2 separate regions of the Homo sapiens genome follow, and region 2 is linked to region 1. The links come from fine-mapping of genetic effects on gene expression. A gene starts in region 1. The other region holds a variant in brackets. All regions are shown on one strand. Distances are from middle to middle. Region 1 holds the start of ICAM4 (intercellular adhesion molecule 4 (Landsteiner-Wiener blood group)). Region 2 overlaps KEAP1 (kelch like ECH associated protein 1).

Evidence for each region. PIP is the estimated chance that this variant, and not a neighbour inherited with it, causes the effect.
Region 2: its variant is the best candidate, but not a certain one, in a credible set for the expression of ICAM4 in monocytes (Fairfax 2014, PIP 0.51).

The regions. Positions count from the first base shown.
Region 1 is chr19:10,284,266-10,288,647 of GRCh38, reverse strand. ICAM4 (intercellular adhesion molecule 4 (Landsteiner-Wiener blood group)) reads right to left here and starts at 1,693. Exons shown (of 3, transcript NM_001544.5): 1 at 1,242-1,693; 2 at 810-1,112; 3 at 128-662. The coding sequence starts at 1,635. The coding sequence ends at 544. It overlaps ICAM1 (intercellular adhesion molecule 1), which reads right to left. Exons shown (of 7, transcript NM_000201.3): 4 at 4,328-4,382; 5 at 3,991-4,245; 6 at 3,620-3,865; 7 at 2,033-3,533. The coding sequence ends at 3,361. It overlaps ICAM4-AS1 (ICAM4 antisense RNA 1), which reads left to right. Exons shown (of 1, transcript NR_186335.1): 1 at 1-2,847. RefSeq lists enhancers at 1,566-1,705, 1,052-2,021, 2,076-2,125.
Region 2 is chr19:10,489,857-10,494,238 of GRCh38, reverse strand. KEAP1 (kelch like ECH associated protein 1) reads left to right here. Exons shown (of 6, transcript NM_203500.2): 3 at 1,977-2,662. Among named protein-coding and RNA genes, the nearest start is that of KEAP1, 11 kb to the left of the region's middle. RefSeq lists an enhancer at 1,820-2,320. The variant T/G (reference allele first, on the strand shown) is at 2,735.

The DNA.
Region 1 (4,382 bases):
CTCAGGTGCCCTCAGGGAGACAAGGAACTTGGAGAAAGTGATCGCAAAAACAACAACAACAACAAAAACAAACCAGTTCCTCCGAAGAAGGGCAGTAATGCGGACCCTTAGGTCACAGGACAGAGGCTGGTTAAGGAAGCCTTTATTGATTCCAGAGGGTTCCCCCGCCAATATTTATTTTTATTTTTATTTTATTTTTGGAGACAGGGTCGTGCTCTGTCCCCCAGGCTGGAGTGCAGTGGCACGATCAAGGCTCACTGCAACCTCGACTTTCAGGGCTCAAAGGATCCTCCCAACTCAGCCTCCCGGGTAGCTGGGACCACAGGTGCGGGCCACCACACCAGGCTAATTTGTGTATTTTTTGCATAGACGGGGTCTCACTATGTTGTCCAGGCTGGTCTCGAACTCCTGGGCTCAAGCGATTCTCCTGCCTCGGCCTCCCAAAGTGCTGGGATTACAGGCGTCAGCCACCATGTATGGCCATTTCCCCAGATTGTTTCATATTCCTCTTTTTCTCGCTCAGCCGGCATAGAACATCCCCCTTTACGCCTGGGACTTCATAGCTAGGCACTTGCATAGGTACGCAGCGCCCACAGTGAGGAGGATCCCTACAAGGGCAGCGATGGAACCGGAGGCCAAAGCTGTGGGCGCGGGGCTCCAAGCTGGGAGCAGAAGGCGAGAATTAGGAACGGAACACAGGGAGGTCTGTCGACCCGCGTGGAGCTCACGCTTGGTCTGTGCGCCCTCTCGGGGTCATAACTCTCTCTGCCCCCTTCCTCCTAGTCCCCAGGGTTACAGGGGTGCCTCACCGAGCATCAGTGTAATGGGTGCCGAGCTGTTGCGGACCACCAGGCCGTCGAGATTGAGGCGCGCGTGGCAGATCACGGGCTGCCAGAAGTCGCGGGGTCCAGCAGCAAACTCGTAGGTCAAGGTCACGTTGGCCAGATCCAGGCCGGTGAAGCGCTCCAGGCTTTCGGAATAGATGACCCGGCTTCCATGCCTCAGGGTCACCACCAAGTAGCCCACCGGGAACACCTGCGTCACGTGGCAGCGCAAAGTGTATTTCCTGCCCTTTAAGACCGGAGGCTCCAAAATCACGCTGTGGGGCGGTTCTAAGGCAAGGGGGAGCCTCTGAGTGAGGTCCGCGGGCGCTCCCTATAGAGCGACTGTCAACTACCCTTCCCCCACCTCTTCCAGCCCCCTCCCCTCACCCCAGCCGGGACCGAGCCCCTGTCCCTCACTGTAGGCGGTGATCCTGGAGGTGGCCCAGCGTGTTTTTCCTGCGCAGGTCACGAGGCAGTGCGCGAGGGAGCTCCAGGCCCTCACGTCGAGCAGCTGGTAAGACACCCAACCCGGCCCTCTGAGCGTCTTGCCTTGCCGCAGCGGGGTGCGGAGGCTGGAATTCTGCGGCTGGGGACAGCTGTTGCTGCAATTGAGCTGCACTGACTTCCCCGGCTGCACAGCCACGAACTCCGGGCTCATGCGCACCCAGAAGGGCACTGAGGTCCCGGAGGGCGCGAGAGGGCTACCCTTGGGGCTTTGCGCCCGCTTAGTCCGGCGTCCCAGCGCGCTCCCAACTCCCGGGTAGGCGGCCGCCAAAAAAAACAGCAGCGACAGAGGGAACAGAGACCCCATGGCAAAAAGCCCGGACTAAGGGGCCCCGCGCCAGAGAGCCAGGGCCGGCTCTAGAGATAAGGAGGCCCGCAGCCCCGCCTCCTCGACTCCACCCTGGAGAGGAAGGGGAGGCCCCAACAGAGGGCCCGGGAGTACTGCAAAAAGGGATTCCGCTCCCCAGGTCAAGAATAAGATTCCAGGCCTCATTAGAAACCAAATGTTTTTTTCTGGAGAGGAGTCTTTAGTTTTCACTAGAGACCCAGAAGGTCATAGAAAGTCCGATTTGGACCAGAACCTCAGGGTATGGCCATCAACCCACAATGTTTTCTTGGGGGAGGAAGTGGGAGGATCAGGCTGTGGCTGCTTAGAAAGGACTCCAGCTGGATGTGACACCTCCCCTCAACTCACACAAGGCTGAGGCAGTTGAGAAAGCTTTATTAACTAACACAAAGGAAGTCTGGGCAATGTTGCGAGACCCCGTCTCTGGAAAAAAAAAAAAAATCAAATTTGCCAGGTGTGGTGTTGTGAGCCTATGGTCCCAGCTACTCAGGAGGCTGAGGTGGGAGGATCACTTGAGCCCAAAAGGTCAAGACTGCAGTGAACCATGATTGCACCACTGCACTCCAGCCTGGGTGACAGAGCGAGAGCTTGTCTACACATACACACACACACACACGCGGATGAGGCTTCCAAAGCTGGGAGGGAGTCCTCCAATACCTTGGCCCCCTTCCCCACTGCTTGCAGGACCCTGATCACTGCAGGAAACTGGAGCTGCATAGTGCAAGCTCCCAGTGAAATGCAAACAGGACAAGAGGACAAGGCATAGCTTGGGCATATTCCCTGGGCACTCATGTCCAGACATGACCGCTGAGTGTCATTGTGAACACTGGCAGAAATGTATGTGGGTGGGGAGGTGGCTAACAAAGGTGTCAGTTTTGGGGGGAAGGGAGGAATAAGGCCTCACTGGGTAATCTCTGAACCTGTAACCATTACCAGTCCATATAGTGCTTTTGTGCCGATAGAAAAATCACTCCTTCTGGGGAAAGGCAGGTTGGCCAATGAGAAGTCCCAGCCCCATTTGATCTTTTTGCCAGGCACTCTCCTGCAGTGTACAACCTGTACAACTGTACCTGGTGACCTTGAATGTGATTAGGACTGGGAGCTCCGTGAGGCCAGAGACCTATGTTCATTTAGCCTACATAAAAGACACTCAATAAATAGCTGGTAAAATAACAAATGAATAAATACATATCATCAAGGGTTGGGGTCAGTAGACAGCAGTGCCCAAGCTGGCATCCGTCAGGAAGTGTGGGCCTTTGTGTTTTGATGCTACACATGTCTATGGAGGGCCACTTCTTCTGTAAGTCTGTGGGGCCTCAGCATACCCAATAGGCAGCAAGTTTCAGTATTTCCCAGTTGTATGTCCTCATGGTGGGGCTATGTCTCCCCCACCACTTCCCCTCTCATCAGGCTAGACTTTAACATCCATCAATCATGTCTTGAGTCTTGCTCCTTCCTCTTGGCTTAGTCATGTGACTACAGATCAGATGCGTGGCCTAGTGTTTTAGGTGTGCAGGTACCATGGCCCCAAATGCTGTTGTATCTGACTGAGGACAATGCCCTGTCCTCCGGCGTCCCAGGGCCGGTAGGTGTAGCTGCATGGCATATGTCTTCCACTCTGTTCAGTGTGGCACCACTGCCACCAATATGGGAAGGCCGAGGAAGAGGCCCTGTCCCGGGATAGGTTCAGGGAGGCGTGGCTTGTGTGTTCGGTTTCATGGGGGTCCCTTTTTGGGCCTGTTGTAGTCTGTATTTCTTGATCTTCCGCTGGCGGTTATAGAGGTACGTGCTGAGGCCTGCAGTGCCCATTATGACTGCGGCTGCTACCACAGTGATGATGACAATCTCATACCGGGGGGCTGTGGGGAGGATACAACAGGCGGTGAGGATTGCATTAGGTCCATGGCCCCTGCCCCCACCCAGCTCTGCCCGCCGGCTCACTCACAGAGCACATTCACGGTCACCTTGCGGGTGACCTCCCCTTGAGTGCTCCTGGCCCGACAGAGGTAGGTGCCCTCAAGATCTCGAGTGACAGTCACTGATTCCCCGATGGGCAGTGGGAAAGTGCCATCCTTTAGACACTTGAGCTCGGGCAATGGGTTCCCCCAAGCCTGGCACATTGGAGTCTGCTGGGAATTTTCTGGCCACGTCCAGTTTCCCGGACAATCCCTCTCGTCCAGTCGGGGGCCATCTGGAAAAACACGATGAGATGACATGGAGGTGGGTGGGGGCAGGACTTGGAGGCAAGACCTTATGGGACCTTCAGGGAGATTGGGCCTTGGGGGATAGGGGCCATTGACCAGCAGCCCCACTCACACAGGACACGAAGCTCCCGGGTCTGGTTCTTGTGTATAAGCTGGCCGGCCACCTCCAGGGTTGCAGAGCAGGAGAAGCTGCGCCCGTTGTCCTCTGGGGTGGCCTTCAGCAGGAGCTGGGCCCTCGGGCCCAGTGGCTGGGCTGGAACCCCATTCAGCGTCACCTTGGCTCTAGGGTGGGCCTCACACTTCACTGTCACCTCGGTCCCTTCTGAGACCTCTGGCTTCGTCAGAATCACGTTGGGCGCCGGAAAGCCTGGAATAGGCACACAGTGAGCCCCGCCCCGGGTTCAGGTCACACCCCCAAGAAGCCCCACTCCGCCCCTGCCCCTTCTTACTGTAGATGGTCACTGTCTGCAGTGTCTCCTGGCTCTGGTTCCCCAGTATTACTGC
Region 2 (4,382 bases), 210 kb before region 1:
CGGACACGGTGGCTCATGCCTGTAATCCCAGCACTTTGGAAGGCAAGGGGGTGGGCCACTTGAGGTCAGGAGTTCCAGACCAACCTGGCCAACATGGTGAAACCCCGTCTCTACCATAAAAATATGAAAATTAGCTGTGCGTGGTGGCACACACCTGTAGTCCCAGCGACTCAGGAGGCTGAGGTGGGAAGATCGTTTGAGCCCAGGAGTTCAAGGCTACAGTGAGCTATGATTGTGCCACTGCACTACAGCCTAGGTGACAGAGCAAAACTGTGTCTCAAAAGCAAAAACAGGCCAGGTCCGGTGGCTCACGCCTGTAATCCTAGCACTTAGGGAGGCTGAGATGGGCAGATCACCTAAGGTCAAGAGTTCAAGACTGGCCAGGCGAGGTGGCTCACGCTTGTAATCCCAGCACTTTGGGAGGCCGAGGCGGGCGGATCACGAGGTCAGGAGATCAAGATCATCCTGGCTAACACAGTCACCCCGTCTCTACTAAAAATACAAAAAATATTAGCCAGGCACGGTGGTGGGCCCCTGTAGTCCCAGCTACTCGGGAGGCTGAGGCAGGAGAATGGCGTGAACCCGGGAGGTGGAGCTTGCAGTGAGCCGAGATAGCGCCACTGCAGTCCGGCCTGGGCAAAAGAGCGAGACTCCATCTCAAAAAAAAAAAAAAAAAAAAAAGAGTTTGAGACCAGCCTGGCCAACATGAAGAAATGCCATCTCTACTAAAAATACATAGTGAAACTCCGTCTCTACTAAAAATAAATACAAAAAAATGGCCGGGCGCGGTGGCTCACGCCTGTAATCCCAGCACTTTGGGAGGCTAAGGCGGGTGGATCACAAGGTCAGGAGATCGAGACCATCCTGGCTAACACGGTGAAACCCCATCTCTACTAAAAAAATACAAAAAAACTTAGCTGGGCGTGGTCGCGGGCGCCTGTAGTCCCAGCTAATCGGGAGGCTGAGGCAGGAGAATGGCGTGAACCCAGGAGGCGGAGGTTGCAGCAAGCGGAGATCGCTCCACTGCACTCCAGCCTGGGCGACAGAGCAAGACTGTCTCCAAAAAAAAAAAAAAAATTAGCTGCTCTGGAGGCACACTCCTGTAATCCTAGCTACTTGGGAGGCTGAGGCAGGAGAATCACTTGAACCTGGGTGGCGGAGGTTGCAGTGAAGCAAGATCACACCACTGCACTCCAGCTTGGGCAACAGAGTAAGAATCCATATCAAAATAAAATAAAATAAAATAAAAATTAACGGGGCATGGTGGTAGGTGCCTGTAATGTCAGCTACTTGAGAGGCTGAGGCAGGAGAATTGCTTGAACCTGGGAGGCAGAGGTTGCAGTGAGCCTAGATCATGCCACTGCACTCCAGCCTGGGTGACAGAGTGAGACTCTGTCTCAAAAACCAAAGCCAAATGATACCCCAGGGTACACGATCTACTGAGTCTTTGCCCATTTTCCTGAGTCCTGATGACATACTTGGCACATAGTATTAACTCTTTTTTTTTTTTCTTTGAGACAGAGTCTTGCTCTGTCGCCCAGGCTGGAGTGCAGTGGCGCAATATCGGCTCACTGCAACCTCCGCCTCCCGCCTCCCGGGTTCAAGCGATTCTTCTGCTTCAGCCTCCCGAGTAGCTGGGACTAGAGGCGTGTGCCACCACACCCGGGTAATTTTTGTATTTTTAGTAGAGATGGGGTTTCACCATATTGGCCAGGCTTGTCTCTCAACTCCTGACCTCGTGATCCGCCAGCCTCGGCCTCCCAAAGTGCTGGCATTACAGGCGTGAGCCACCGCGCCCGGCAGGATTAACTCATTTAGTCATCACAATGTACGCGGTTCCTATTATTTGAATCCCCATTTAGCAGATAAGGAAGCTGAGACTGTCAGCGGCAGTGATAAGTTACTTGTCCCGGTCCTGCTTGGTGAGGTGTGGGGGTGACTGGAGAGTCAGCCCGTCCCACTGTCGCCCTCTGCAGGTGGCCAAGCAAGAGGAGTTCTTCAACCTGTCCCACTGCCAACTGGTGACCCTCATCAGCCGGGACGACCTGAACGTGCGCTGCGAGTCCGAGGTCTTCCACGCCTGCATCAACTGGGTCAAGTACGACTGCGAACAGCGACGGTTCTACGTCCAGGCGCTGCTGCGGGCCGTGCGCTGCCACTCGTTGACGCCGAACTTCCTGCAGATGCAGCTGCAGAAGTGCGAGATCCTGCAGTCCGACTCCCGCTGCAAGGACTACCTGGTCAAGATCTTCGAGGAGCTCACCCTGCACAAGCCCACGCAGGTGATGCCCTGCCGGGCGCCCAAGGTGGGCCGCCTGATCTACACCGCGGGCGGCTACTTCCGACAGTCGCTCAGCTACCTGGAGGCTTACAACCCCAGTGACGGCACCTGGCTCCGGTTGGCGGACCTGCAGGTGCCGCGGAGCGGCCTGGCCGGCTGCGTGGTGGGCGGGCTGTTGTACGCCGTGGGCGGCAGGAACAACTCGCCCGACGGCAACACCGACTCCAGCGCCCTGGACTGTTACAACCCCATGACCAATCAGTGGTCGCCCTGCGCCCCCATGAGCGTGCCCCGTAACCGCATCGGGGTGGGGGTCATCGATGGCCACATCTATGCCGTCGGCGGCTCCCACGGCTGCATCCACCACAACAGTGTGGAGAGGTGAGTGGCAGGGCCTGGGGGTGGGCTCGGAGGGTCCTGCTCCTGGCAAGTCCCAAGACACTGAGATCCGGG[T/G]ATTCTTCCTGAGGCTGTTTCCTCTTCCTGTCTTCAGGGAGTGGAGGCCTCAGGATGAAGCTAAGCTCCTTGGAGAGTTCTAGTCAGTGACCTTTGATTCTGTGCCTGGGGCTGGGAAATGCTTAGGGGACTGTCACAAACCCATATGGTTCCTTTGTGCGGAGTTGGAAAATGTTCCATCAGTTTGAAATTGTTGGGCTAGGCACTGTGGCCCATACCTATAATCAGGGACTTTGGGAGGCTGAGGTGGGAGGATTGCTTGAGTCCAGGAGACTAGCCTGGGCAATAGAGTAAGACCCTGTCTCTCTTGCTCTGTTGCCCAGGCTGGAGTGCATCTTGGGTCACTGCAACCTCGCCTCCCAGGTTCAAGTGATTCTCCTGCCTCAGACCCTGGGGTAGCTGGGACTACAAGTACCCACCACCACGCCTGGTTAATTTTTGTATTTTTTGTAGAGATGGGGTTTCACCATGTTGGCCAGGCTGGTCTTGAACTCCTGTCCTCAAGGGATTCTCCCACCTCAACCTCCCAAAGTGCTGCGATTACAGGTGTGAGCCACTGTGCCGGACCTAAAGGACTCTTTGAGCATCAAAGAGTGATGCTGAATGTGTGATTTCTCCTTTCTGAGATGTTATCTTGTTATCTGTGAAGTGGGGGATCTGGCTGAGCCACTAGGGGTTTATCAGATGTGTTTTTGAACTTGAGCAATTGATGGCTAGGAGGCTCAGTTTTGTCATTTGGAAAATGGAGTTGCTGATACCTCAATCCTTGGAGAACAACTGCAAGCACTAGAGTTCGAGTGGAGGTGGGCACGGTGGTGTGCACCTGTAGTCCCAGCTACTCAGGAGGCTGAGCCAGGAGGGTTCCTTGAGCCCAAGAGTTGATAGCTGCAGGCTGGGTGTGGTGGCTCATGCCTATAATCCCAGCCCTTTGGAAAGCTGAGGCAGGCAGATCACTTGAGGTCAGGTGTTTGAGACCAGCCTGGCCAACATGGCGAAACCCAATTTCTACTAAAAATACAAAAATTAGCCGGGCGTGGTGGTGGGTGCCTGTTATCCCAGCTACTTGTGAGGCTGAGGCTGAATAACTGCTTGAACCCAGGAGGTGGAGGTTGCAGTGAGCCATGCTCTCACCATTGCACTCCATCTCAAAAAAAAAAAAAAAAAAAAAGTTTGAAGCTTCAGTGATTGCACCACTGCACTCCAGCCTGGACAACGGAGCAAGACCCTGTCTCTTTTTTTCTTTTTTTTTTTTTGAGATGGAGTCTCGCTCTGTTGCCCAGGTTGGAGTGCAGTGGCATGATCTCAGCTCGCTGCAACCTCCGCCTCCCAGGTTCAAGTGATTATCTCGCCTCAGCCTCCCGAGTAGCTGGGATTACAGGCATCTGCCATCACACCCAGCTAATTTTTGTACTTTTAGTAGAGACAGGTTTTTACCATGTTGGCCAGGCTGGTCTCAAACTCCTGAGCTCAGGTGATCCGCCCTCCTCGGCCTCCCAAAGTGCTGGGATTACAGGCATGAGCCATCGCGCCGGATGAACCTGTCTCTTTAAGGGGGAAAAAAAAAAGGAAAAAAAAGAGTATCTGGCCCTTAAGTATTCCACGAAGGTCAGCTATAATGGCCATTGTCCCCATTTTTCTTACGCCCTTG